Linked DNA regions of Homo sapiens. The protein of the gene in region 2 purifies or fractionates together with the protein of the main gene of each other region. This does not show direct contact. Each region holds a gene or a part of one and is shown on either strand. Other genes may lie near its edges.

What was found.
Region 1: the proteins of SLC22A3 (region 2) and ACTG2 purify together in Homo sapiens (affinity purification with mass spectrometry; one large-scale study listed by BioGRID and IntAct). This does not show direct contact.

What each region holds. Positions count from the first base shown.
Region 1 is NC_000002.12:73,895,687-73,899,508, reverse strand, and holds part of ACTG2 (actin, gamma-enteric smooth muscle isoform 1 precursor), read right to left. Parts: intron 1-3,822. UniProt on the Homo sapiens protein: Actins are highly conserved proteins that are involved in various types of cell motility and are ubiquitously expressed in all eukaryotic cells.
Region 2 is NC_000006.12:160,438,662-160,442,483, reverse strand, and holds part of SLC22A3 (solute carrier family 22 member 3), read right to left. Parts: intron 1-3,822.

The DNA.
Region 1 (3,822 bases), on a different chromosome or scaffold from region 2:
GCACAGAAAATGAGCTGAATCAGAAGATATATATATATATATTTTTTGAGATGGGGTCTTGCTCTGTCACCCAAGCTGCAGTACAGTGGCAAGAACACAGTTCACTGCAGACTCGACCTCCCAGGCCCAAGCGATCCTCCCACCTCAGCATCCCAAGTAGCTGGGATCACAGGCATGCCCTATGGCTGGCTGATATAAAAATTTTTTTCTGTAGAAACAGAGTCTCCCTCTGTTGCCCAGGCTGGTCTGAACTCCTGGGTTCAAGTGATTCTCCTGCCTCAGCCTCCCAAAGTGCTGAGATTACAAGTGACCCACCACACACAGCCAAGGTTAAATTTAATGAAATGAATATGAATTCCTATATGTGGGTTTCAATCACCAAACTGTGAAAGTTCTTGTGGCCGGGCGCGGTGGCTCACGCCTGTAATCCCAGCACTTTGGGAGGCCAAGGTGGGCGGATCACGACGTCAGGAGATCAAGACCATCCTGGCTAACATGGTGAAACCCCGTCTCTACTAAAAATACAAAAAAAAAGAAAATTACCCAGGCATGGTGGCGGGCGCCTGTAGTCCCAGCTACTCGGGAGGCTGAGGCAGGAGAATGGCGTGAACCCGGGAGGCGGAGCTTGCAGTGAGCCAAGATCGAGCCACTGCACTCCAGCCTGGGCAACAGAGCAAGACTCCATCTCAAAAAAAAAAAAAAAAAAGAAAAAAAAAAGAAAAGAAAAAAGAAAGCTCTGTTTAGCATCTGTGAGCAGGACTTGGTGTCTTGTTGACCATCAGCAGTGTGCTATGGCCAGGATAAAAGCTACCTTTGCCTTTAGCTGGGGTACTGTGTGTGGTTCTTGGGGCCACCCTTGCTGGCAAAGGTATGGAGAATTGGCTTCACATTCACTGCTTGTGAGTGTTAAATTGTACTACTTTTCTGAAAGGGAATTTGAAAATACTTATTCTACGAATCTATCTTTGTGAAATGGTCATGAGTGAATGAAAAGATTTGGCCTGTTTTCACACCTTTGTTTAAAATGATCAAAATTAGGAACAATCTCAATATCAAAAAAAGTTACTGAATAGTAAATAAGTTGGCTTGTAAACTAATTGCTGGAAGCCTCCATACAATGGAGAAACTGAAATATTTAATACAATAGAAAAGGTGCAAGTTGCTTTGGTAGGTGAAACAGCAGTATGTTCCAAATCTCAGAGAAGGTAAAGAACTTAGCCAGAGATCTCTTCACCGAGAAGAGGCTGGGAAAGGCAGGCCTGGCACCCACCGAGGACACTTCCCAAGCCTGAGATGTGCCTTCGTCACTACTTTGGGGAACTGTCATAACTTCTCCATGTTTGGTGTTTTTGCTTCAGCCTGTCTCTCCAGAGCGGTTGGCAGCAAGCACCCTAAAACAAAAGGGTCTGTGTTCTTTTCTCTCTATGAAATGGAGTCCCTCCTGTGCCAGGGCCACGCCTAGATTTACTTTTTACAGCCCCAGCACCTAAGTGGGTGTTTAACACACAGGCGGTGCTATGGTTTGAATGTTTGTCCCCCTCAAAACTCATGTTGAAATTTAGTTACCAATTTTAACAGCAGGGTTCTGCCCTCTTGAATGGACTAATGTCCTTCTCAAGAATGGGTTTTTTTATAAAAGGGCGAATTTGGTCCCTTCTCACTCTCTCTTGCTCTTCTGCCATGTAACGGTGCAGCAACAAGGTGCCACCTTGGAAGCAGACTCTGGGCTCTCACCAGACAGACACTGAATCTGCTGGTGCCTTGATCTTGGATGTCCCAGCCTCCAGAACTTTGAGAAATACATTTCCATTGTTTATAAATAACCCAGTCTCACATATTCTGTGGTAGCAACAAACATGGATTAAGACAGTAGGTGTTCAATAGATATTGAATGACAATGTTGCCGTCTGAGTGGCCCCCCTCCCAGACCTGGTGTGCTCTGCCTCTGGGATACCCGAGTCCCCACAGTCCAGCCTCATGGTGGTTCAGTCACAAGGGCCTGACTTAGAATCACATGGGCAGTCTTCTCTCCAAGCTGGCCAGTGAACAGCAGTGCTGCCCTGTTCTAGCAGGTGGTCCACCTTGAGAAGAAAGCAACCTCCAAAGCAAGGAAGTAGCCAAAGAAGCAAAGCTGTGCTCCGGGACTGCCTCCCTCTAGGGTCCCCTCAGCAACCCTCTCTCCGGTGTGACTTACAGTTCAAGCCTGTCTGGGTTTTCAATGGGCCCTTTTGTCTCCCTCCCCAAACTCTCTCCGGTGTTTCCCACACACAGAAAGAGGGAGAGCCTGGAATTTTGTTTCCAAAGCACAGCAGCAGCTCAGAGAAGCCACAAGGCGACTTGAAGCTGTCAACAACGCTGTTCTGCAGCCCTTCAGGTGGCTTGGAGTCTGCTATTTTGAAGGCAAAACTCAACCGAAGTGAGGGTGGGGAAGGCAGGGGGAAGGCAGTGGGAGGGCTGGCGGAGTCGAGCCTCCAAAGGGCCCCGTGCTGCTCTGGGAAGAAGGGGTTCACCCTGGAGCCAGACTCGTGGACCATCTCTGCCAGGAGAAATTCTAAACTTTCCTCAGCTGCTTTCTGGTAATTTGTGGCTAGACTCGAGCATGTCAGCTGAACCAGAGTCAAAGTCACTGTGGTTTCCTGGGGTCACAACCGCTTCATGCTTGGCAGGGAGCAGAGAGTTGTTCTGGTTCTTTCAGCACGAATGACATCTGGGCTTCATTGAAGCTCTCACTGACTCAGGAATGAAGCTTTTATTCCCCTAGCCCCAAAGGTGGCCAGAAACCAAAGACATAATGAATGCAAGTCATTTGCTCACTCACCCGTCTCCCTGGCCACCTCAAACCCAATGTGAGGGCAGAGCTGTTAAAATCCACCCTCCCCAGCACCTCAAAGGAGACAAGTTTGGCTCTAGAAATCCTCCCACTGCTCCTCCTTCCTTTACCCTCTTCTCCCTCCTGGTTCCCCTTTCCCACAGCCCAGTCCCTTCCTTCCCTGGGCCTTAGTTTCCTCCGCTAGAACATGGAAATGATAGTATCTATCTCACAAGATGACAGAACGGAAATGAAGGTGCCGTAGACATTGTAAATCAGGGTAAGGCAAATTCCGGCCTGTTTCTGTATGGCCTATATCTCAGAATGGTTTTTCTTTTTTTTTTTTTTTTTTGAGATACTGGGCCTCACTCTGTCACCTAGGCATTGAGTCCAGTGGCACCATCAAGCTCACTGCAGGCTTGAACTCCTGAGCTCAAGGATCCTTTCTCCTCATCCTAGGAGCTGGGATGGCAGGCATGTGGCTGGCATGGCCACTACATTCTGCTAATTTCAAAAAAAAATTTTTTTTGTTGAAACAGGGTCTTGCTATGTTGCCCAGGCTGGTCTCAAACTCCTGGCCTCCAGTTGTCCTACTGCCTTGGCATCCCAAAGTGTTGGGATTACAGGTGCAAGCACTGCACCCGGCCCTACATTTTCAAACGGTTGAGAAAAAAGCAAAAGAAGAAAAATATTTCATGACCCATGGAAATTATATGACATTCAAATCTCAGAGTCTAATAAAGTCTTACTGAAACACAGCCACATCCATTCACTTACATATTATCTATGGCTGCTTTTGTTACAATGGTAGAATTGAGTACTTGTGACAGAGAACTTCAGGCTCCGAAAGCCTAAAATATTTACTATCCGGGCTTCGTCAATCCCTGTCGTCAAGGGCTGTAAAGAATAATGATTCTTATTAATCTCTCTTACTCTTCTCCATCAAAACTTGCTCCCAGGATGAAGCCTGTCATATTGAAAGGAATTGAATGATCCATTTCACACATCAATGA
Region 2 (3,822 bases):
TGGAACATTGTTCCAGGCAATGACCTCCTAGAGAGCCAAAGCACACTGGCTTTTTGTCCAGGTGGTAGTTTCCAGTCATGCCTTTGAGCCACCACGTTCCCACAGCTGGTGCCCAGCTGTCCTTTCTGTGCATACCTTGCGGTGGTGACACAAGGAATAGCCGTTCCCAGCACACCTGGGGAGTTCCTCACGTGAGCTGACCTTGGTTTCTAGAGTGGAGCAAGCTTTGAGGACCAGGATCTTTGGAAGGGGACATCTATTCTGTGTGTTACCACTAAGGCAAATGTCACTCATTGTCTTCTTCATCCCCCATTGTACTACTTCCTTCAATAAACCATCCAGAAGGAGCCACATTCATCAATGCTAATTGGTTCGTCCATTTTAAAATGAACTGTTTTAGGACTGCTCTGGTTGTATGAAGAAATTTTCCTTTCCTCCCTACTAACTAGTGGGAAATGCCAAACATTCTATATTAAATATTTTCTTTCTTTTATGTTTTAAGGGCAGAGGAGTTAACCATTTTTACTCTAAAAAGTCACTGCTCTAGCTTTCCTAGAAGTTGTGCAATTGATGTCATCCTTTCCTAGGGGATTTGGTATTGAGGACATATGTCTGCATGAACAAGACCATATCTGCTCTCCAAAGCAAAACGAAGCATGTCCAGTGTTCATGTGCCTTTCATTTTCCCTTTATATCCAACACATATGTTCATTTAGCACTAAATAGTCCTCCTGTTTCCTAGGGGAATTATTGAACCTTCCTGAATATATAATTTTTTAGTAGAAATGAATGAGGAGGATGAAAGAAGAGAATCAAGCCCAGTAGACTTCTGTGTGTTCTCTCTAGAGAATAGCCAAGTCAAAAAAAAAAAAAAAAGCTAAAATTCATTAAATAAAACAATTGCCCAGGAGCACAGGTGTAAGGAAAAGATGGCTCAAGAATCCAAACCATTTCTGGGAGTCTGAAGTTTACATATTTTGACTGCAAACTGGCCAAGGACATCCTGGTGCACTTGATGTTTTTCCCACATGAGAACCCTTGTAGCTGTCACGTTAACGGTTATATCAGGCAGTGAGGAGGCCAGGGTTGTGCTGATGTGCTGGGCCACTGTCTGCTCTGGAGCAGAAGGTTTGTCAACATGTGTTATTTAGGCTTTGCTTCTTTATGAAGACCAAGAAAAGGGGGGAGTGGAGACTAGGTAATGCATTCCACTCCATCTTTCAATGAGCATGTGGTACTGGAAGGGGAAAGTGGGAGCAGAGACTCAGATTCCCTGGGTCCCAGCCCGATGGGACCATCTCCTGCCACTCCCGGGCTGCAGTGAAGGCTGCCTGCTACCTAGGAAACAGCTTCACTATCCAGGTTGGGTTCTTCCATTGTATGTTTCTTTTCACTAAATCAAGATTGCTCTAAAATTGAGTCCCACCGACAAATTCAAGGGCAATTTGGGTTTATAACCGAGGCAAGGTGTTTCATGGAAAAATCCAAACAAAAGCCAGAGACCAAATTAAAACACACACACACACTCCACCATGATAAACATATGTGGTTAACTCAGATAAATAGCCAGTCAATTCAGTAAAACATTCAGAAAATGCCAAGTTGCCCCATTTGTGGAGATGTGGTCTGTCCGGAACATTGACCTTAATCTGAAAGACTCCCAACTCTTTTCCAAGCAGTAGAGTCCAGTATCAAACTATACTGGAACAGAGATTTTGTTGAAATGTGTAACCAAAGAAAAGTTTCTAAGGCATTGCATGGTTCATTAACTAAAGAGTGAAAAGAAAACTGTAGGAAGTATGAATAAATATATACACACAAAGAAATTCTTGATTCCAGTAATAAGCTAAATTCATTTTGAGGTGGCCATAGACATCTTTTGGTAGCAATGACAAAAACCACAGGGCAATTTAAAAATGAGTACTGAAACTAAAATTGTCTTCCATGGAATTACATGAGAACAAAGAAAATGTTTTCTTCTGAATGTGGATTTGGTCAAGCTACTAGAGATGATTGGGAATAATACCTCAATTCCTGAAGAAAGGATGCAGGACTTAAACAAAACTTTATATGTCCTCTGAATGGATCATCTACTCTGAGTTCTGAAATAAAGTTTAGTGAGAAATTCTAGTAGAAATGTCTAAATTAAGATACATGAACTCACTTTTCAATTAAAGAAAAATAAAAGTGGAAGACAAGTTTTCCAGTTCAAGAAGACGACTTATCCAAACTGCTAGGTTTGTGGTCATCCTAAATAAACTCAAATTAAAGATGGCAGACAGGTATGGATAAAGAAAGGTCTTTATTTTCCAGACATTAATGAGTGTTAAGAAATTTGGACTAGAAGCAGTGAGTCTGAGATGAGAATACAACCAGAACTACTATTTCTTCTTCCAGAATTCCATTCTTTAGACCATGAAAAGTTGGGTCGAGTGGAGGGAAAGCTGATTAAAGTGTTTGCTGTGAGACTATTTTAGAGCTGGTTTCTCCAAAAGCTCATCTGTATTCTCCCCAGGGGCTGGCGACCTACTACTGACGTCAGGAATGGCTGAGCAGAAAAGCCTTTCTCGTGCTAATTAACCAGTGGCTGGAATCAAGTCCAATGGGTCTTTAAATTGGAAGGACTCAAGGGAGGATCGTCTGTTAATATTTGGAACTCAGTTTAGGGATTTGAAATGTATTCTTGCCAGTCAGTCATGACTGACATATGACTATAAAAGCAGCCAAGTCTGCAGAAGGTAAAAATAAAATGTGTCTAGAATAAGAGCAATTCATTTTCAGTCTTGCTGAGAACAATTCTAAAGCTTCAATCAGGAAATTATATCTATAAAATAAAACTGGTTAGACAAGGGAGAACAGTCTGTTCTTGGTGTTATATTTTCCAATATATGAAAGAATTCTCTACAAAATAGTTATATGACTATCCGGCTAGTTACTTCTGTCTTGATTTGGACACACAGCCTTGAATGCTTTCTGGGGTCATTCTGAATGCAACAAACATTAAAGTCATCCCAATCAATCTAGGACCAGAGAAAATCTTATAGAGTAAAGTATATATATATATCATGAAATGAGGGGACACACCGAAGCATGCATCTTTCTCGCTGCATTTCTAATTTCATATACAATGAATATTTCATTCATTCCTAGTCCACATACGATGAGAACAGAAGACTTCATCTCAGGGAGCTACAGTTGTATGTTATATCCAAAGTACCAAAGTAAAATAGAACAGTAACGTCTCCAATGTTTGCGATTTTTCACTCTTCTTAAATTATACAATTTTGAGGGCAGGAATTATGTCTATTTTGTTCACCTCTCCATTCCCCTCCTAGTTCAGTGGCTGGCAATTAGTCGATACTAAATAGATACGTATTAAGAGATAGCTATTGTACAGATCCTCCAACTCTTATAATATGTTAATTCCATGTAGTGGGTTGAACAGTGTCTCCCAAAATTCATGTCTACCTGGAACCTCAAGGCTACTACATTTGGAAATAAGGTCTTTGCAGATGTAATTAGTCAAGGTGACACTGACACAAGCAGAGAAGAGAATGTCCTGTGAATATGGAGGCAGAGATAGGAGTGACACCAAGGAGCTGCAAGGATTGCCAGAGAGAGGCATGAAGAGACCCTTCCCCAGAACCTCTGGACATAAGCACCCTTGGATGCCTTGATTCTAGACTCCCAGCCTCCACACCCCTGAGAGCATAAATGTCTGTTGTTTCAAGCCGGTGAGTTTGTGGTACTTATTACAGCAGCCCTGGGAAGCGAATGCACTCAAGGAAAACAAGAGAAATGTAAATAGGTGGTTGCTGTTCA